Linked DNA regions of Homo sapiens. The protein of the gene in region 1 interacts with the protein of each later gene in a biochemical or structural test. Each region holds a gene or a part of one and is shown on either strand. Other genes may lie near its edges. The genes, in order: DLD and OGDH.

The links.
Region 2: the proteins of DLD (region 1) and OGDH form a complex in vitro, tested with the Homo sapiens proteins (one study listed by BioGRID).

The regions. Positions count from the first base shown.
Region 1 is NC_000007.14:107,898,741-107,910,515, forward strand, and holds part of DLD (dihydrolipoyl dehydrogenase, mitochondrial isoform 1 precursor), read left to right. Parts: intron 1-2,997; coding exon 2,998-3,077; intron 3,078-3,584; coding exon 3,585-3,653; intron 3,654-4,737; coding exon 4,738-4,807; intron 4,808-6,217; coding exon 6,218-6,318; intron 6,319-6,620; coding exon 6,621-6,764; intron 6,765-7,526; coding exon 7,527-7,628; intron 7,629-11,775. UniProt on the Homo sapiens protein: Lipoamide dehydrogenase is a component of the glycine cleavage system as well as an E3 component of three alpha-ketoacid dehydrogenase complexes (pyruvate-, alpha-ketoglutarate-, and branched-chain amino acid-dehydrogenase complex).
Region 2 is NC_000007.14:44,697,423-44,707,661, forward strand, and holds part of OGDH (2-oxoglutarate dehydrogenase complex component E1 isoform 1 precursor), read left to right. Parts: coding exon 1-75; intron 76-181; coding exon 182-360; intron 361-769; coding exon 770-841; intron 842-2,718; coding exon 2,719-2,847; intron 2,848-4,120; coding exon 4,121-4,193; intron 4,194-9,802; coding exon 9,803-9,966; intron 9,967-10,159; coding exon 10,160-10,239. UniProt on the Homo sapiens protein: 2-oxoglutarate dehydrogenase (E1o) component of the 2-oxoglutarate dehydrogenase complex (OGDHC). Participates in the first step, rate limiting for the overall conversion of 2-oxoglutarate to succinyl-CoA and CO(2) catalyzed by the whole OGDHC.

The DNA.
Region 1 (11,775 bases):
CCACCACGCCCGGCTAATTTTTTTTGTATTTTTAGTAGAGACGGGGTTTGGTCTTGATCTCCTGACCTCGTGATCCGCCTGCCTCGGCCTCCCAAAGTGCTGAGGATTACAGGTGTGAGCCACCACACCCGGCCCTGATTTTTTAACTTTATGTATGGGACTCAACCTGTGAAATTATTCTTGACAAGGAGAGGGTGAGTCAGAATCATGTGTTATCAGCTTTCATTTATATGCATCCTTTGGTACAGGTGAGAGGTAGATGATTTGTTTTTCTGACATTTTATTATGAAAAATTATAAGCATTTAGAAAATTATAAGAATTTTACATTGAACACCCATAGTTTTCTTCCATTAACATTTTCTGTGCTTACAGTACCACATATGTGCTCATTCGTTTATCCATCAGTGCAGACGTGTGTATACTTCCCCTAAATACTGGTTTGTTTTTGAAAGTTTGTTCCTGGCTTATACCCTCCTGTATTCTCAGTTGACAGATCTTTACATAAAGAGTCTGCTTTTTTCTCATTTTTGTGCATCTTAGCACTTTAGTGGTATTGTAATGGAATATTACATCTAGTATGTACAGTGAGAGAGGAGCTCTTGAATTTTTGGTATTTTCTGAAGTTTAAAAAAAAACACCTAAGATTACATAGTGAATAGGGAAGTAAAACCCAAGGTTTTTGGCTATTATCTTTTATCTCTTGTTTACTTCTCCTGACCTTACTAAAACAAGTTCTTTTCCAAACCAAATTTATTTATCATTTTAGTACCATGGACCTACTATAAGAATTGTTACATATCAGTGATTAAAAGTATATGCTCAAAAATACATATACTTAAAATCTAAAATATTTAATTCAGTTTTATTGTCATTAAAAGGGTTTTTGGAGAATTATAGCAGTAATATATGTTATAAATATATATGCTCATGTAAGAGTGAGAAAAGAATATAAAATATGGCAAAAATTGAATTTTATAAAAACTTTCCTAGAAGAAGGATTGGGAGGACCTATAAACAGTTCTCTCTGGGCTGTATGGCAATGTGGATGGGTTGTTTTTTTTTTAATTTTGCTTTAGTGTATTTAAATTTATTCAGTAAACCTAAATTTTTAATCAGAAAAGACATTAAAAATTCAGCAAAGAAACCTGTTTTGTAGCTTGTATTTACATTACTCTGAAATTAAAAATTAGAACCCATTTAAGGGATGTTGTGTAGATCGTCATTTGGTTCAAGATTTGAAAATAAAAATACATTTTATTAGATACTTAATTCTGAACCGAAATCAGTGAACCAAGCAGGGTGGCTAAAAAGCACAGATGGATCAGTAAAAATTGAAGCAATTTTTCATGTATTGAAATGACTATACATATTTTTTCATGTATTATCTCAATTATCATCTGCTATAACCAAAGAGAATCTAGTATTTTCATTTATTCAACAGGAGGGATTCTTAGATTTTGTGGATAATTGGGCTGAGTAACTTAGTTATCCACCAACACAGAGGTTCTGTGATTCTGTTCAGGCCAGCAAAGGTTTTTTGAATGATCCTACTCTAGGGATGTGTGTTTTTGGGGAGAGGGGGTGATGCAAATTAAAATAGTCTTCTTTGTAGGTCAGAATATAGCTACTATGTATAGAATACTTATTATGTATGCTATAGGTACTATGCTAAATTATTTACATACATTATTTTATTCTGTTATCACCCTATGAAGTAGGTTTTTTTTGTGGTCTTTCTTTTGCCAGGTATGGAAACAAAGATGAAGCAGGTTAAATTACTCACCTAAGGTCACATAGGTAGTGATTATAAAGCTTGATTATTGCTCTCTGGAATTTTAGTTTATGATGGTTAAAACTGAGGAATGGAATAGTATTGAATAATGGAAAGACCACCGGAAGTAGAGTCAAAAAGCTTAGTTTGTCTCTGCAACTCACTTGCTGGTTAACCTTAGACAAGTTAATTGACCTCTCTGAACTTCTTGTTTATTCTGTGAAATGTCTTATTTATGACATCTTTATCTTCCTCATAGGAAATTCTGAGACTCAAACATGATAATATATGTGAATATGTGTTATGAATTGCTAAATGCTAGACTAGTTGGGGTTGTCAGGACAGTGGAAGGGGAAGAAAAGGGAGACTGTTTCCTAACTCTTAACAGTCACTGTTACTTTATTTGAAGTTGGATTGAGAAGAATGGGAGTAATTGGACTTACTTGCACATTTGTATTACAATTGTTAAACTCCTAAGGATACTGATCAAAATTAATTTTCAATTTTTTATCTTTATTTGAAAAATGGCCACAATAGTTAATTGAATATTCTGGTTAGCCTATTATCTTAAGGTATGTAAAAATTATCAATATGCAAGTACAAAACATATTTGTTAAATATTACATAGAAGCTGTTTTTTCCCTCATATTTCAGAAGTTAAGGACCTGAAAAAGGTAATAGGTCTTAAATTTATTGGAAATACTAAAGCATTATATAAAATTATCTTATTTAATTCTAACATCAATCATTGAAGGCAGTGTTTTCATCCCCATATTACAGAAAGGTTAAGTCATTGGGTCAAGTTCATACAACTACTCATTGGCCGTGCTGAGATATGAAGCCCAGAATGTCAGATTCCAAAGCTCAGGCTCTTTGCTTCATACATACTTGTCTTCCAGTATCACTAAATTCCGTCAGTTATTAAATCAATAGAATTTAGGAAGGTCAGTGAATACAATGTGAGTGTTACAGAACTCAGTTGTGTTTCTGTATGTTGTAATGAATAGAAAATAATAGAAAATGAAATTTGAGTATTTATGCCATTTTTCAGTAGCATCAAAGAGCATCAAGTAGTAGTAATAAAATAGTGCAGAAACTATGTAGAAAATGCTGATTTGTACTGTAAGAGGTTTAAGTATCGGGTTATTTGTTTGCTCTTCCAAAGAGCTCTTTTTGGTAAATATTAAGCAATTTACTATTTTATATCAATTTGCTTTTATCGTAGTTGATGCTGATGTAACAGTTATAGGTTCTGGTCCTGGAGGATATGTTGCTGCTATTAAAGCTGCCCAGTTAGGCTTCAAGGTAAGGTTTGAACTCAAACTAAGTATTGATTTATTTTAATTTGGGAAGGGTTGATCATATTTATAAAGTACTTTGCAGGCAAAAACATGGTAAATACTTCCTTAACTCTATAAATTACTTGTAAGCCTGAGACTAATAAAGATTAGGTTCATTTGGTTGTAGTATTCTCTTGGAATGGAAAGTGAAATCTATTAGTTTTCTTCTCTTCCCAGTACTTTTCATTTTGGCATCTAATCACACTTTGGAAGATACAGTGATAGAACTAAAAGCATATATTTGGTAATGTTAAGCACACAAAAATATCTTTTAGAATAATTCACTTTTGGGTCAGCCCAAAAGTGTTTATTATTATTCAAATGATAAATTATAAAGGACTATATATTTTAGTCTGTGAAAACATAGCCCGAATAGCTTGTTTTGTAGAAGAATTAAGACATATATTTGGAATTTTAGTGATCTGAAACATTGAGGTTATGTGCAGTTAAATAATGTTTTCTTTGGTTGTAGACAGTCTGCATTGAGAAAAATGAAACACTTGGTGGAACATGCTTGAATGTTGGTTGTATTCCTTCTAAGGTGAGCATGTGTTTTGTACAGCACAGAGATTGTTTTTGGCTAGCAACCAACTAGAAGGATGGATTGAGACTAGATTAGACAAATACACTTGTTAAAAAACAATCCAAGTTGTGGCACATTTCACACAGAGAAAAAAAAGAATGATAAAAAACACACTTCTCTTTTGTAAAACTTAAAGAGTGCTGTCACTAGTCTGCCACACATTCCTGAAATAACTTCCTTGTCTCAGAATGCCTAGCTTTCCATTCAAACAGACTCTGATGTTCTAGTTTTTTCTCTTTATCTTTCCTTCACCAGTGTAACAGATAATAGATAGTAAATTGTTCTTTTAGGTCCTTTTTGTATGTAAACATGACTGCCTTTTTCACCTGCCACCCTGAAGTGTGTACTTATGCCTTTACTTTTAAAGAAAGTAAAAATGTCTTTTTCATTCTTGTTTGTTGAATGTTTTTCACATCATTATTGTTTGTCTTTGATTAATAAGAGAAACTGAATTGGTGTAGTGCCATATACTATTCCATGTAGAGAATGCCATGTCTTTTTTTTAACTTCTTTTTAAATTTTTATTGTAAATTGACAAATTACAATTGTATATATTTATGGCATACAAAGTGGTGTTATGATTTATGACTATAATGTGGAATAATTTAGTCAAGTTAATTAACATATTCATTACCACAGTACTTATCATTTTTGTGATGAGAACATTTGAAAGAGAATATCGGCCGGGCGCGGTGGCTCACGTCTGTAATCCCAGCACTTTGGGAGGCCGAGGCGGGTGGATCACCTGAGGCTGGGAGTTTGGGACCAGCCTGACCAACATGGAGAAACCCCATCTCTACTAAAAATACAAAATTAGCCAGGCGTGGTGATGCATGCCTGTAATCCCAGGGACAATTGCTTGAGCCCGGGAGGCGGAGGTTGCGGTGAGCTGAGATGGCGCCATTGCACTCCAGCTTGGGCAATAAGAACGAAACTCCGTCTCAAAAAATGAAAAGAAAGACTATCATTTCATAAGTGCTTTTTGATTATTTGAAGTCTGTTTATGAATATTTGATAATTTGATCTTTTTAATTTCCTTTAGGCTTTATTGAACAACTCTCATTATTACCATATGGCCCATGGAAAAGATTTTGCATCTAGAGGAATTGAAAGTAAGTATACTTTTCATGCTTAATGATATTACCAGACTGCTTGACTTGGCTCTTCTGTCTAAAGACTTAAATGTGTCTAACGTACGCATAATAGATGTTTAGTGAAGGAAGAGTAAAATAAATAATCTAAAAAATGTGGAGAGATTTACTTAAAAAAGAAGGCCTAAATCCAGATTTCTCCCAGCCAAGTATAACCAAGCCTAACCCTGCAAATCCAGATTTCTACCATTATATCTTCTGTTCCTTTGCCAACTTTTTCCTGAGGTTTGCCTTTATGTGTTTTTGAAGAGTCAGTTTTCATTTCCTAAAATCTGGAAATCACTGAGAAGGCTGGATTCCTGAGTACTATGGGGAGATAGAGGAAGGAAGGAAGGCCCACTTAAGCTGTTGATAGTAGAAAAATTAGAGGAGAGAAAGAGTGAGGCATAGCGGAAAAGGAAGAGGACATTTCATAACGTATCTTGTCTCCTGACATACTTTTTGAGCTGTTTTAATCTTTTGTCTCCAATTATTGTTGTTGTTAGATACTTCCAGAAAGGTAGTCTCTTCTGGGCAGGACCTAGTCATAACCTTGGGTTGTTACTTTTCCTTCATTTGTTTCTTTACAGAGGTAGGTTTGAGGGGCTACTTAAGGCAATCCATTGGGTATAGAGATGATGTATATGCACTAAAGCAAATAGAATATCATACTAGTTGAAAAATGGAATGACGTAAAGAAAGAAGAGCTAGGGGTAGTCAGGAGACCTGCATTGTAGGCAAGGCTTTTACATCCTAGCTCTGTGACCTTGGGTAAATCAGAAATCTCTCAGAGTCTCTTTTTCCTTATCTCTAATATATGTGTTGGTTATATGAGGTACTTTCTAAGATACCCTTCTTACCTCTAAAGTTTAATTGAGTTGAGCATTTTTATCTAATACTGTTGCTTCAGAGTTCTCTTCTGAGTTGAATGAGTGATTAAAACCTAGGTGATTAAACTTTTTAATGTTAAGCTTCTGTATTTGAAATTTTTAAACGTGTATTTTTTATTTGTTTTGTTTCATGAAATCTAGCATTTTCCTTTATTTAAAATTTCAGATGATGTTTTACTTTGTCATTTCTACTTACATATCTTCCAGACTTATAACCATCGTAAAGTGTTCAGAGGATATGTTATCACAGTGGGATATAATGTTTTATTTTGGACTGCCTTTTTACCCAAGGTAGACATTTTATAGTGTTTGATAGGTTCTGTTTCTGTGATACAATGATGTTGGCCTTTTGTCAACTATAATTATAAGTTATTACATTTTGAAACTTTAATACTGCCTTTTATAAGCATTAGGTTGAAATTTTCCAGTTGGTGAGTGAAAAACACTGCATATTGCTTCAAGAATTTAGCTAAGAACTAAAGATTAATTGAACAAATTACAGTGTCCGAAGTTCGCTTGAATTTAGACAAGATGATGGAGCAGAAGAGTACTGCAGTAAAAGCTTTAACAGGTGGAATTGCCCACTTATTCAAACAGAATAAGGTCAGTGTTTAATATTCAGATTTCTGCTTTACTTTGAATACAAATTAAACTTTGCATTATAGAGTGATGATATTTGAACTTGGTTACAGGGGAATATTTATTTAATTTAAAATAGCTTGCTAACCTGAAATAGATTTCCCTGACATATATCACAGATTTTTTTGCTGCACCATGGTGTAGCATTACTAAGTAAGGAAGCATTTTGTTTTAGATAAATTATTTACAGAGTAATTTTTCCTTTGAATGATTTATCAAACAAATTACTTTAAACTTTGTGAATTTATAAAGATTATTTTGTAAAGGTTGTTCATGTCAATGGATATGGAAAGATAACTGGCAAAAATCAAGTCACTGCTACGAAAGCTGATGGCGGCACTCAGGTTATTGATACAAAGAACATTCTTATAGCCACGGGTTCAGAAGTTACTCCTTTTCCTGGAATCACGGTATTTATGCTTCATAATTTACAACCATTACAACTTTTCTTTAGAAATACGTTTTATAAGTTATTTATGCTATTTGTGAACTTTGAGAGATTTCTGACTGAAATACTATATTTTGATGGTCATTCAGCTTTGGGAAGTTACCTGTCTTTATTCTGCAGTGATTCTGACCAGCTATAGAACACTTTATATTAAGATATGTTTGAATACAGTATGAAGTTAAAATTGACCATTGCGTTTGGAATATTGGTGGATAAAATTTAAAGTCAGTGTTTTTAATGGGATTTGATGAAATTAGGTATATAGATACCTCAAAACAAATAAATGACTTAGTATTTTTAGTGATTCTACTGAGATCACAGTTTATAAATACATTTATCTCTTCATATCCTTGGAGGATTGGTTCCAGGACCCCCCTTGGATACCAAAACCCACAGATGCTCAAGTGCCTTACATAAAATGACATAGTATTTGCATATAATCTGCATACTTCCTCCTGTATACTTTAAGTCATCTCTGGATTACTTATAATACCTAATACACTGTAAATGCTATGCAAGTAGTTCCTATGCTGTATTGTTTAGGGAATAATGACAAAAAAACCATGTGTACATGTTCAGTACAGATGCAACCATCAATTTTTTTCCTGAATATTTTCAATTAATGGTTGGTTAAATCTGCAAATTTGGAACCCATGGATATGGAGGGTCGACTGTACTAGGTTTTTTCAAATTATTTTGATTATATCTTTTGTTTTTCTTACAGATAGATGAAGATACAATAGTGTCATCTACAGGTGCTTTATCTTTAAAAAAAGTTCCAGAAAAGATGGTTGTTATTGGTGCAGGAGTAATAGGTGTAGAATTGGTAAGTGTTGTCTTTCTGCCTCTTATTACCTCCTTGGAGTTGGAAGGGACTTAAAGGTCCCCTTTTTGATTTTTTGTATAACATTACAGGCTGATCAGCATTGAGTTTTGCTTAAACACTTCTAGTAATAAAGAGTTTACTTTTGTTTTTTTCAAGACAACCTATTTATGTATTTACTCATTTAGAATGTTCTCCTTTATTTTAGTCTGTTTCCTTGTACCTTCCACCCTTCCATTTCCTAGAACTGGTCGAATTCTTTTTTAATATGACAGCCATTCAGATATTTGAGGACAGCTTTTATCCTGGGCAAATTGCATTCCAAATAAAGATTATTCTCTTTACCATCACATACATGATTTGGCTCTTCCCTTCTCTATCCTCATCTTGATGCCTCTTAACTTAGGTTTTAGAAATGTCAAACTACTTGCATTTCTTTGAACACCATGTTATTTTAGACCTTCTGTCTGCCTTGTTCTCCCTTCTTGTCCATCTGGCAGCTTTCCACACATTTCCAATGACCTCCCTCCATTTTAGAGTCACTGTGCCTTGTAAACACCAGGAATTGCTCTACTTCTGAAATAATAAATTCAGATATTTTATTATGTAACCATGACCTCCTTTCCTCTTTTACTCAGTTATTCATAGTGTACTTTGTACCCTTTTTTAGGTTTTCTAGTCCATAGATCTACTTTTTTGCAATCTTCCCTTTCCAATCTTGACTGCGTTCCTGATCAGCTTAGATGCCATAGTCCATCACTTTAACCACACTCTTACAGATGTCCTTGAGTTGCTTGTCTCACTGTTCTGTCATATCTGCTTGGCAAAACTCTAGTTCGGTTTGAATGCAGCAGTCTGCCTTTTTTATGCTATTTCCAGGCTGTTGACTACACCTGGAGAAAAACACACCCTACTCATTGGTACTTGTATTAATTCTTGGCACAAACCTTAACAAGAACCTCAGCCTTGCTGACAGTTTATTATTTCCTAAGATGGTACACTGCCCTGGTCTCTGCAATGGCCATTTTCATTTTCTACTCTTCTCAAATCTCTGCTTGTATACTGTCTGCTCTGCCTGTGGATGACCTTGTCTTTTAAATATTACATAAAAGAGAAATCAGATGAGAACTCCCTCAAGTTGATGTCCTAAATTTGATAATGCTTTTACCTGTTGTTACACCTATCCTTTTGATTACCTCTCCTATTACTGTGGAAATGCCATTTTCCCTAAGACTAATCCCTTTACTTGTGCTTGGTAGCACATCATCTGCCTTTTCAGAGACTTGGTTTTGTGATTTTTATTCTTGTATTTTTCAGTCTTCAAACTCCTTCCTTTTATTTACAATTTCATGTGCTTCTATGTGTGTACCTGTGATGCATTTGCACTCATTAACACAGGTTTGTGTGCACATAAATGCTCCTTATCTTGGTCCCATGTCCTTCTTGAGTTACCAATTTTGTTCGCACTTTTCCTTCAAAACCCAGCTTCTCAAAAGAGTTGTCCATGCTTTATTTCATCAACTTCCACTCACTCAGTCTATGGCTTGTGCCAATAAATTGCTCTTAGGGCATGAATCTATTTATTGCTCAATCTGTTGGACTAATTTCTTCACTGCTTTATTTGGCAGTAATTAGCATTGCTGATTTTCTTGCCTTTGAAACACTTTGCCTAACTTCTGTGATTTCATATTCTTCCATTTTTACATCTGCTCTTTGGGCTGAATTCTCCATATTATGCAAGTTCCCCTTTCTTAGGCTTCCCTTTAATTGTTAGTATTTTTGTTTTTCTTTTTTTTTTTTTTTGAGTCCGAGTCTTGCTGTGTCGCCCAGGCTGGAGTGCAGTGGCGCGATCTCGGCTCACTGCAACTTCTGCCTCCCGGGTTCAAGTGATTCTCCTGCCTCAGCCTCCCAAGTAGCTGAGACTACAGGCGCCCGCCAGCACGCCCGGCTAATTTTTGTATTTTTAGTAGAGACGGGGTTTCACCATATTGGTCAGGCTGGTCTCGAACTCCTGACCTTGTGATGCGCATGATGGTTCATGTCTATAATCCCAGCACTTTGGGAGGCTGAGGCAGGCAGATTGCTTAAGCCCAAGAGTTTGAGACTAGCCTGGGCAACAATGTGAGAACTTATCTCTAAAAAAATGTAAAAAATTAGTTGGGCATGGTGGTGTGTGCCTGTAGTCCCAGCTACTCAGGAGGTTGAGATGGGAGAATCACCTGAGCCTGGGAGTTTGAGGCTGTAGTGAGCTGGGTCATGCCAGTGCACTCCATCCTGGGCAAAAGAGTGAGACCCTGTCTCAAAAAAAAAAAAAAACCCCAAAACAAAAATCAGCTTTTAAGTTATCTTTTTAGTGAATAATTCTTTCTTCTAAGAAAGCTCAAGTCTTTCATTTTTTGAGTCCTTAGTATAATATATCTACATTTCCATAGTACCCACTAATAATAATACATTGCATTTGTTTGTCTATGGCTGACTTTCCTATAAGACCAAAGCTCCTTGAAGGCAGGACCGAATTTTTAATTCCTATTTGAATCTCCATTGTTTTTCTTAATGTTTAGTACTTAGGTCTCCTAGACAGCAGGTCTGTTATTTTGTCATCAACCTTTGGATCCTGTCTAGTCCGTTAAGAAAACTTGTAATCTAAACATAATGTTCTGGGTTGTAGAGAGTACTTCTTTTGATATGCATAGTATACTTCTTGTAATGTAATGCTTTGAAATCAGTTTAGTTGTTTTTATAAAGCAGACATTGAGCTTATGTTCAGATAAAAACCACATTTTTTTCGCATTTGGAATTCTGATTTTTTAAACCTAAGTGACTTTGAACCTTTATTCTTGCTTTAATTTAATCTTGTTCACTCATACTCATTATTCCAATCTATATCTTAGTCTTGATTCTGTCACTCTTATACTTAACTGCTTTTACTTTTCATAGTTCGTAAATTTTGGAAGTATGACAATTAAGGCATGCAGTCCCATCATCTGATCTGATCTTGGTTAAGCAAACTTCTGTTGTCATTCACGTCATTAGTACAAATTTTTGACCAGGATGAAACATCGAAAGCCATCTGACAGTACAGTCTTTCACCAGTTATAAACACCTTTGATGTTTATTCATCTTCGTTTCTCCATCTCATCTACAAGGATATCATGAGATTTTCTTAAAATTTTTTTTAACACCTTGCTGATATCAAAATATACTACATTCACCAGTCCAGAAACCCTTCAGAAAGTAAGAGTGGTTTATGTGACCTGTTTGGAACACTTGTGGTAGTGTCTACTGATTGTGAAACCAGCTGATTAATAATGTCTTCTAGTATTTAGCAGAATCTCTTCTTTTCCATTTTTGAAAATTTAGGCATATTTGCCTGTCTGCCACCTTTTGGCAGTTCCCTTGTGCTAAGTAAGTTCCCAGAGTTCACTGAGAGTGCCTGTTTTGTCATACTCTAATTGGGTTGATGGGAGAATTAACTTTTTTTTTTTTTTTTTTTTTTTTTGAGATGGAGTCTCGCTCTGTAGCCCCGGCTGGAATACAGTGGCATGATCTCGGCTCACTGCAGCCTCCACCTCCCAGGTCCCAGTTCAAGCAATTCTCCTGCCTCAGCCTCCTGAGTAGCTGGGATTACAGGCACGCACCACCATACCCAGATAATTTTTCTTTGTATTTTTAGTAGGGACGGGGTTTCACCATGTTGGCCAGGCTGGTCTTGAACTCCTGACCTCATGATCCGTCTGCCTCGGCCTCCCAAAGTGCTGGGATTACAGGCATGAGCCACCACACCCAGCCGGGAATTAACTCTTTAAAAATGACCAGTTGTTCTTAATCTTGGGCGTTGCCTCTTGGTTAATAATATTTCTTCTGTTCATTCTACTTTGTTCTCATAGTTGGATAAAACAAGAAAAAAGGAATAACATTTACTTTCTTTTGTTGGTCATTATAATATCTCGAAGCAATAATTCTATTTCTTCATCTCAGCAGTTTTGCTTTAGGTTTTTTATAAGCCTTGAGTCTTTTGACACAATGATTTAGATACCTGTTACTGTATTGAATTAGTTTTTACATGTCTTTTTAAAAACTTATTAGAGAATTTACTGTGTAGTCATGATATCTATTTATTTTCTTGTAAAGATTATTCACATAACTGTAT
Region 2 (10,239 bases), about 63 Mb from region 1:
CCATGAACCATCTCTGGCCCAATCAGGCCCCCTATACTGTGTGCAACAGCTCACTGTCTGAGTACGGCGTGCTGGGTGAGTGCCTGGAGCCACACCACCAGGGCCTGTCACCCACCCACCCCCGCTGGGCCTACTGGCTGGTGTCCTGGACATGGTTTTCTCCTTCCTTTGTCCCTTGTAGGCTTTGAGCTGGGCTTCGCCATGGCCAGTCCTAATGCCCTGGTCCTCTGGGAAGCCCAATTTGGTGACTTCCACAACACGGCCCAGTGTATCATCGACCAGTTCATCTGCCCGGGACAAGCCAAGTGGGTGCGGCAGAATGGCATCGTGTTGCTGCTGCCCCATGGCATGGAGGGCATGGTGAGCCTCTGGCCCTTCCCTGCCAGACCTAGGACTTGGGAAGGGCCTGTGTAGGACCCTGACCCCAAAGACTGGCACGAGAGCCAGTGGCTCACACCAGCCTCCTAAGGACTCTGCTGGTGCTTCCCATCCATCTCAGATGGGATGTCACTTCAGAAAGCCAGAGTAGCCCATCTGGATGTGGCTAGCATGCCCCGTCCCTGCTGGTGCAGACTCCCTAGATGCACAGGCGTCCAAGTGTGGAAATGATGAGCCAAGTGCTTTGCTGGTGGGAGGGGGAAGGAACTGAACCCTGCCATCAAGAAAAAAGATAACCAGAAATGAGCTAGTTGGTTGAGGAGGAACAGCAGATGCGGCAAATGTCAGTACGCAAGAGCTCTTAAACTGTAACTTGCGTGTGTGGTTCCAGGGTCCAGAACATTCCTCCGCCCGCCCAGAGCGGTTCTTGCAGATGTGCAACGATGACCCAGATGTCCTGCCAGTGAGTAATACAGGCCCTGTCAGCCCAGCCATTCTCGGGGTGTCTGGTGGGAAACCTGGGGAAGAGCAATCTATCTGGTCATCCTGAAGTGGCAGACCGTGCCTCTGTCCCTTTCTCCATCCTGGGGAGCTCACGTGAGTGGACAGGTGTGGCCCCATGCTTCTGGGCGCCCTGGGATGAGAGACTTCCTCAGAGCACAGAGGAAGGTGCAGGGACTGCCTCCATTGGCTTCCTGCTGTTGCTGCAAGCACAGAAACGCCATGTGAGCTCCTCAGCAAGGGCTCCTGCGGGATGCTTCCAGACCCTGATTCAGGTCTGGAAGCCCTGAGGAGGAGAGAACTTTGGGGCGATTCCAGTGAAACTTTAAGAACTCAAAGAACCAGCCTGGGCAACATGGTGAGACCCCGTCTCTACAAAAATTTTAAAAAGTAGCTGGGCGTGATGGTGCACGCCTGCAGTCCCAGCTACTTGGGAGGCTGAGGTGGGAGGATTGCTTGAGCTTGGGAGGTCAAGGCTGCAGTGAGCCAAGATCGTGCCACTGCACTCCAACCTGGGTGACAGAGCAATACCCTGTCTTAAAAAAAAAAAAAAAAAGAACTGTGCTGGGTGTGGTGGCTCAAGCCTGAAATCCCAGCACTTTGGGAGGCCCAGGCAGGCGGATCATGAGGTCAGGAGTTTGAGACCAGCCTGGCCAATATGGTGAAACCCTGTCTTTACTAAAAATACAAAAACTAGCTGGGCATGGTGGCGCCCACCTGTAATCCCAGCTAGTCTGAGGCTGAGGCAGGAGAATTGCTTAAACCCGGGAAGCAGAGGTTGCAGTGAGCCAAGATTGTGCCGCTGCACTCCAGCCTGGGCAGCTCCGTCTCACAAAAAAAGAACTGGCCAGGCGCAGTGGCTCACGCCTGTAAGCTCAACACTTTGGAGGCCCAGGCAGGTGGATCACGAGGCCAGGAGTTTGAGACCACCCTGGCCAATATAGTGAAACCCCGTCTCTACTAAAAATACAAAAATTATTCAGGCGTGGTGGCGGGCACCTGTAGTCCCAACTACTCAGGAGGCTGAGGCAGAGAATCGCTTGAACCCGGGAGGTGGAGGTTGCAGTGAGCCAAGATTGCGCCACTGCACTCCAGCCTAGGCGACAGAGGGAGACTCCTGTCTCAAAAAAAAAAAAAAAAAAAAAAAACTCAAAGAAAATGATTAGGTGTCAGTGTCTAAGGAAAATTGGTTTTAGGTAGAACTTGTGTCTCTTAAAGTGGTATTTGTTTCATGCTGGGCAATAGCTTTCAGAGAAATAGTATGGATTGAGTGGGACTGAGGCTCTCCTCCAGGGTATGAGGCTGGCCGAAGGAGCTTGCTGGACTCACTTGTTAGTGTCAGCTTATGTCTCCTGGGGAGTCAGTGTGTTAGGCCATTCTTGTGTTGCTATAAAGAAAAACCTGAGACTGGGTAATTTATAAAGAAAAGTTTAATTGGCTCACAGTTCTGTAGGCTGTACAGGAAGCATGATGCTGGCATCTGCTCAGCTTCTGGGGAGGCCTCAGGAAGCTTACAATCATGACAGAAGATGAAGTGGGAGAGCAGGCATGTCACATGGCCAGAGCAGGAGTAAGAGAGTGGGGGAGAGGGGCCACACACTTTCAACAACCAGATCTCGTGTGAACTCAGAGTGAGAGCTCACTCATCACCAAGGGGATGGCCCAAGCTCTAATCCTAACACCTCCCACCAGGCCCCACCTCCAGCAGTGGGAGATTACAATTCAACATGAGATTTGGGCAGGGACAAATATCCAAACTAGATCACCTGAGGGCCCCCACATGCCCCAGAAGACTCAGTGCTGTGTCCTGGCCTCTGGCCATTTCCTTCCCTGCTGCAGGACCTTAAAGAAGCCAACTTCGACATCAATCAGCTATATGACTGCAATTGGGTTGTTGTCAACTGCTCCACTCCTGGCAACTTCTTCCACGTGCTACGACGCCAGATCCTGCTGCCATTCCGGAAGCCGGTCAGTGGCAGGGCCTCCCTTGCTCAAACGAGGCCTGGCCCTGCCCTGTTGGTGCAGGGAAGGGCTCCTCAGAGAGCCTCTTGCTTGGGGTTAGCTAGGTGGGCACCTGCAGGGGTAGTGTGGACAGGACATGGTGTCAGGGAGCCTCGCCCTTCCTCCTCACTGCTGCCATGAGGGAACTGCGTGTTCTGTGTGTCCTCTTCCCCGACTGGGCCCCTGCATACTGCTGAGCACCACATGCGGAGCAATCACATAGGCTGCAGGCCCCAGCCCGGTGGGGAGGACGGATGTTTGAACAGGTGGTCATAGGGGGTGTGCTGAGCTCTGGAAGAGAGGTGAGCCCTGGCAGAGGCCAAGGGAGTGCAGGGTCCCCAGGGAGCGGCTCCTGAGCTGGGTGTTGAAGGGTGAGTAGAAGTTGAGTGGAGGGATACGTTGGAGAAGTGATTCATAAAAAGGAAGGAGGCCGGGCGAGGTGGCTCACGCCTGTAATCCCAGCACTTTGTGAGGCCGAGGCAGGTGGATCATGAGGTCAGGAGATGGAGACCATCCTGGCTAGCACAGTGAAACCCCGTCTCTACCAAAAAAAATACAAAAAAATTAGCCGGGCATGACAGCGGGCACTTGCAGTCCCAGCTACTTAGGAGGCTGAGGCAGGAGAATAGGAGAATAGCGTGAACCCGGGAGGCGGAGCTGGCAGTGAGCCGAGATCGCACCACTGCACTCCAGCCTGGGCAACAGAGCGAGACTCCGTCTCAAAAAACAAAAAAAAGGAAGGAGTGTGGGGGACAGCGAGGGAGTGCCCTGCTGCCCTGGGATACCGCGGGGGTGGGAGTATGGGGTGGAGGCTTGCAGCTCGGAGTGTCCCCAGCAGTCCAAGGGCCCACAGGGCAGGACAGCCCTGGTGCTTCTTGGTGCTGGGCCATGTCACAGCCTTACATGGGCTTTGGGTGCATTTGCTCTGAGACTGCCAAGGAGAGGGTCAGAGCTCTTTCCTAGGTACAGAGAAGCAGGGAAGGGAGTATTGGGAGTCCGAGCAGGCTGGGATGGGCCCTGCCAGGAGTGGATACCCAGCTAGGGGAGGTGAACAGCAGGGAAATTGGTCATCTTTCCTTTTCCCTCCTTCTCTGCCTCTTCTGACCTGAGGCTCCTGTTGAGTGGGAGGGCAGGTGTGTTTCATGGCCTGAAGGTCAAGGCTTGGGTAGCCTTGCTTTTGACCTTCCTTCTGGAATCTTCAGAATCTGATCCTTCACGAGCCTATTGTTCTGTATTTCAGTTAATTATCTTCACCCCCAAATCCCTGTTGCGCCACCCCGAGGCCAGATCCAGCTTTGATGAGATGCTTCCAGGTGGGTGTGAGGGAGATGGGCATTTCCTTGGGGGAAGCTATGTTTGGGGCTTCTTTGCTGCTGCTCTTTTACAGCTCATGGGACTGACATTTGTGATTCTCACTGGCTCTTGCCAGATTTTTGGTTGTAAAGACCCGTGATACATGGCTGGGCACAGTGGCTCACGCCTGTAATCCCAGCACTTTGGGAGGCCGAGGCAGGCAGATCATCTGAGGTCAGGAGTTCGAGGGCAGATCACCTGAGGTCGGGAGTTCGAGACTAGCCTGACCAACATGGAGAAACGCCATCTCCACTAAAAATACAAAATTAGCCAGGCGTAGTGCCACATGTCTGTAATCCCAGCTACTCAGGAGGCTGAGGCAGGAGAATTGCTTGAACCCAGGAGGTGGACGTTGCAGTGAGCTGCTATCACGCCATTGCACTCCAGCCTGGGCAATAAGAGCAAAACTCCGGCACAAAAAAAAAAAAAAAAGTCCCATGATACCAGATGAGGGAGGTCACAGCTTACATTCACGTTGGTCAAATGACATGTCTTAACATGCAGCCCAGGAGCTGTTGCCTCTCACCTGCAAATGCCCCCAAGGACTCCACTAGAGGCAATTAAGTATGTCCAAGATTGAGGGTTAGTGCCGCTGCCTGCGGCCTCCTTCAGCAGGTGAGTGGCAGCTCACCACTGGCTCAGAGGCCCAGCCCCAAAGCAAGCCCTTCAGGACAGAGAAAAAAACACTGGACGGCAGGTCCTGCCAAGTCACATGCCAGCTGCACTTGTGTGAAGGGAGACCCATAACATTGAGATTTCTATAGGGACAGTGGAGTGCAGGATGTTGACACAGCCTTTACCACCCACCAGGGGTCACCAGGCCAGGAAGCCTGCATCCCACCAGTCACCAAACCCCCTTTAGTCTTCAATCAAGGTGAGCCCCTTGTTTTTTGGGGGTTTTTTCCCAATCTTTTTTTATTTTTAATTTTATTTATTTATTTATTTATTTATTTTTGAGACGGAGTCTCGCTCTATCGCTCAGGCTGGAGTGTGGTGGCACAATCTCGACTCACTGCAAGCTCCACCTCCCGGGTTCACGCCATTCTCCCACCTCAGCCTCCCAAGTAGCTGGGACTGCAGGCGCCCGCCACCACGCCTGGCTAATTTTGTTTTTGTATTTTTAGTAGAGACGGGGTTTCACCGTGTTAGCCAGGATGGTGTCAATCTCCTGACCTCATGATCCACCCATCTTGGCCTCCTAAAGTGCTGGGATTACAGGCATGAGCCACCATGCCCAGCCCCCAGTCTTTTTTTATTATGGTAAAATACACAACATAAAATTTACCATTTTGACCATTTTTAAGTATCCAGTTCAGTGTGTTACTGCCTCTATAAATTTGACTACTCTATGGAACTCATAAGTGAAATCATACAGTCTTTGTCCCTTGCGACTGGCTTGTTTCATTTAGTATAATGTCTGCGAGGTCCATCCATGTTGTGTAGCATGTGTCAGAATTTCTTTTTTTTTAAGACTGAATAGCCAGGCATGGTGGCTCATGCCTATAATCCCAGCACTTTGGGAGTTCGAGGCAGGTGGATCACTTGAGGTCACAAGTTTGAGACGAGCCTGGCCAACAGGGTGAAACCCCGTCTCTATTAAAAATACAAAAATTAGCAGGGTGTGGTGGTGCACGCCCTGCTACTCTGGAGGCTAAGGCAGGAGAATTGCTTGAACCCGGGAGGCAGAGGTTGCAGTGAGCTGAGATTGCACCACTGCACTACAGCCTGGGCAACAGAGTAGGACTCCATCTCAAAACAAAACAAAACAAAAAAGACTGAATAGGCTGGGCCCAGTGGCTTACACCTGTAATCTCAGCACTTTGGGAGGCTGAGGCAGGTCGATCACTTGAGGTCACGAATTTGAGACCAGCTTGACCAATATGATGAAACCCCATCTCTACGAAAAATACAAAAATTAGCTGGGCATGGTGGCGCGCACCCGTAATCCCAGCTACTCAGGATGCTGAGGCAGGAGAATTGCTTGAACCTGGGAGGCAGAGGTTGCAGTGAGCCAAGATTGCGCCACTGCATTCCAGCCTGGGTGACAGAGACTCCGTCTCAAAAAAAATAAATAAATAAACTAGCCGGGGGTGGTGGCGCATACCTGTAATCCCAGCTACTCAGGAGGCTGAGGCAGGAGAATCACTTGAACATGGGAGGCAGAGGTTGTGGTGAGCCAAGATCACGCCGTTGCACTCCAGCCTGGACAACAAGAGCGAAACTCCGTCTCAAAAAAAAAAAAAGACTGAATAATACTCCATTATATGTGTATGCCACATTTTGCTCATCCATTCATCTGTCGATGGACACTTGGGTTGCTTCCATGTTTCAGCTATTATGATTAGAGGAGCTGCTATGAACATTGGTGTACAAATATTTCTTTGAGTCCCTGCTTTCAGTTCTTTTGAATATGTACTCAGAAGTGGAATTGCTGGACCATATGGTAATTCTATTTTTAGTTTTTTGAGGAACTGCCAAACTTTCCACAGTGGCTGCATTTTACATCCCACCAACAGTATATGAGGATCCCACCATCTCTACATCCTCATCAGCACCTACTATTTTCTGGTTTTTTCATAGTAGCCATCTTAATGGGTGTGAGATGATATTTCATTGTGGCTTTGATTTATATTTCTGTAATGATTAAGTGATGTTGAGCATCTTTTCATATGCTTATTGGCCACTTGTATATCTTCCTTGGAGAACTGTCTATTAAAATCCTTTTTTTTTTTAATTTAATTTTTTTTAAGAGACAGGATCTCTCTATGTTGCCCAGGCTAGTCTTGAACTCCTGGGCTCAAGGAATCCTCCTACTTTGGCCTCAAAGTATTGAGATTACAGGCATGAGCCACGGTACCCAGCCTATTCAAATTATTTGCCCATTTTTGAATCTGGTTGCTTGTTTTTGAGTCTTAAGAGTTCTCTGTATATTCTAGATATTAATTCCTTATCAGAAATATAATTTGCAAATATTTTCTCCCGTTCTATGGGTTGTTCTTTTATTCTGTTGTTAGTATCTTTGGTTTTGGTTTTGGGTTTGGGTGTTTTTTTTGTTTGTTTTTTGTTTTTTTCCGAGATGGAGTCTTACTCTGTTACCCAGGCTGGAGTGCATTAGTGCAATCTCAGCTCACTGCAACCTCTGCCTCCCAGGTTCAAGTGATTCTCCTGCCTCAGCCTCCCAAGTAGCTGGGATTACAGGCGCACGCCACCATGCCTAGCTAATTTTTGTATTTTTAGTATAGACAGGGTTCCACCATGTTGACCAGGCTGGTCTTGAACTCCTGACCTCAGGTGATCTGCCCACCACAGCCTCCCAAAGTGCTGGGATTACAGGCGTGAGGCACTGCACCTGGCCTGTTGTTAGTATCTTTTGATGTACAAAAGTTTTTAATTTTCTTTTTTTTTTTTTTTTTTTGAGACGGAGTCTCGCTCTGTCGCCCAGGCTGGAGTGCAGTGGCGGGATCTCGGCTCACTGCAAGCTCCACCTCCCGGGTTCACGCCATTCTCCTGCCTCAGCCTCCCAAGTAGCTGGGACTACAGGCGCCCGCCACTACGCCCAGCTAATTTTTTGTATTTTTAGTAGAGACGGGGTTTCACCGTTTTAGCCGGGATGGTCTCGATCTCCTGACCTCGTGATCCGCCCGCCTCGGCCTCCCAAAGTGCTGGGATTACAGGCGTGAGCCACCGCGCCCGGCCAAGTTTTTAATTTTCATGAAGTCAGATTTGTCTATTTTTTCTTCAGTTGCCTGTGACTTTGGTGTCATATCTAAGAAATCATTACCAAATTCAGTGTTGTGAAACTTTTGCCCTATGTTTTCTTCTGAGTTTTATAGTTTTTGCTCTTATGTTTAGATCTTTGACCCACTTTGAGCTAATTTGTTTTGTTTTTTATTTTTTGTTTGTGTTTTTTTGAGACAGAGTCTCACTCTGTCATCCAGGCTGATGCAATCGTAGCTCACTGCAGCCTCAATTCCTGGGCTCAAGTGATCCTCCTACTTTGGCCTCCCAGAGTACTGGGATTACATGTGTGAGCCACTGTGCCCAGACTTTTATTCTGTTTGTATCATAAATGGAATTGTTGGCCTAATTTCCTCTTCTTATTGTTCATTGTTAGTGTATAGAAACACAACTGGTTTTGGTTACGTGCATATGATGCGTAGTGCTTAAGTCAGGGTATTAGGGTGTCCGTCACCCGAGTACGATACATGTTTGTTAACCTTACTCCTTTATCAAACGTTGAACTTAATTCCTTCTATCTAACTGTATGTTTGTACCATTCAACCCACTTTTCTATATTTTTTTGAGATAGATTCTTACCCTGTCACCCAGGTTGGAGTGCAGAGGCATGGTCATCATGGTTCACTGTAACCTCTGCCTCCCAGGCTAGAGTGATTCTCCCACCAAAGCCTCCCAAGTAGCTGGGAACACAAGGTGTGCACCACCGTGCCTGGCTAATTTTTGTACTTTTGTAGAGACGGAGTATCACCATGTTGCCCAGGCTGGTCTCGAACTCCTGAGCTCAAGGGATCCTCCTGCCTCAGCCTCCCAAAGTGCTGGCCAACCCACTGTTCTCTATCTGAATATTTTCTCTGATTGTGTTGAAAGTTTTTATATTTGTAAAATTCTGAGCAGCAGAAACAGAGTAAACATGGGATTTTTTTTATATAATTTTTTTTTTTTTTTGAGATGGAGTTTTGCTCTTGTTGCCCAGGCTGGAGTGCAATGGCGCATTCTTGGCTCACCACAACCTCCGCCTCCCGGGTTCAAGCAATTCTCCTGCCTCGGCCCCCCGAGTAGCTGAGATTACAGGCATGCGCCACCATGCCTGGCTTATTTTGTATTTCTAGTAAAGACAGGGTTTCACCATGTTGGTCAGTCTGGTCTCGAACTCCTGACCTCAGGTGATCCGCCTGCCTCAGCCTCCCAAAGTGCTGGGATTTACAGGCGTGAGCCATGCGCCCGGCTGGTATTTTTTTTTTTTTTTGTCTGGAGATGGAGTCTTGCTCTGTTGCCCAGACTGTAGTGCATGATCTCAGCTCACTGCAACCTCTGCCTCCCGGGCCCAACCGATTCTTCCACCTCAGCCTCCCGAGTAGCTGGGACCACAGGCGCACACCACCATGCCTGGCTCATTTTTTGTATTTTTTTAGTAGAGACGGGGTTTCACCATGTTGCCCAGGCTGGTCTCGAACTCCTGAACTCAGGCAATCCGCCCGCCTCAGCTTCCCAAAGTGCTAGGATTGCAGGCGTGAGCCACCGCACCCGGCCGGGATGTTTTAATAATACTCTTGTCCCCGAAGTCTGAGCCAAGCTGTTTTGAAGGCTAGCCTGGTGTTACTTGATACCCAGAGCTGGCCATGTCTGCTGTGTATTTGTTACACGTAACGTGCTTTTCAAAGTGTGCCTGGTCTGAGCAAATACAGGGCATCAGAGGCTGGTGAAGGGGAAGCATCTCTAACCCTTGAAAGCTGCGTCTCCTGGCAGCAGTCCCTGGCACAGCCCTGGGCCCAGGAGAGCTCTCAGCCACATACCTGAGAGAACCAGCCTAGCCATGGGAACTCTCTTGTAGGAACCCACTTCCAGCGGGTGATCCCAGAAGATGGCCCTGCAGCTCAGAACCCAGAAAATGTCAAAAGGCTTCTCTTCTGCACCGGCAAAGTGTATTATGACCTCACCCGGGAGCGCAAAGCACGCGACATGGTGGGGCAGGTGGCCATCACAAGGATTGAGCAGGTGAGGGCAGGTGGTGCCATCAGGGTGTCCCCCCAGCGGGGGTCAGGGCTCTGGTGCCTTCACAGAACAGCCTTGCTTGGGGTGTGGCCCTCAGGTTCCTGACCTTCCCTGCTCGGAACACCAGTTTCCCTTTGCTGGATCTTGCCTGCCCTCTGAGTTTCCTCTTTTTGATCTGACCCCTGCTGTCTCCTAGCTGTCGCCATTCCCCTTTGACCTCCTGCTGAAGGAGGTGCAGAAGTACCCCAATGCTGAGCTGGCCTGGTGCCAGGAGGA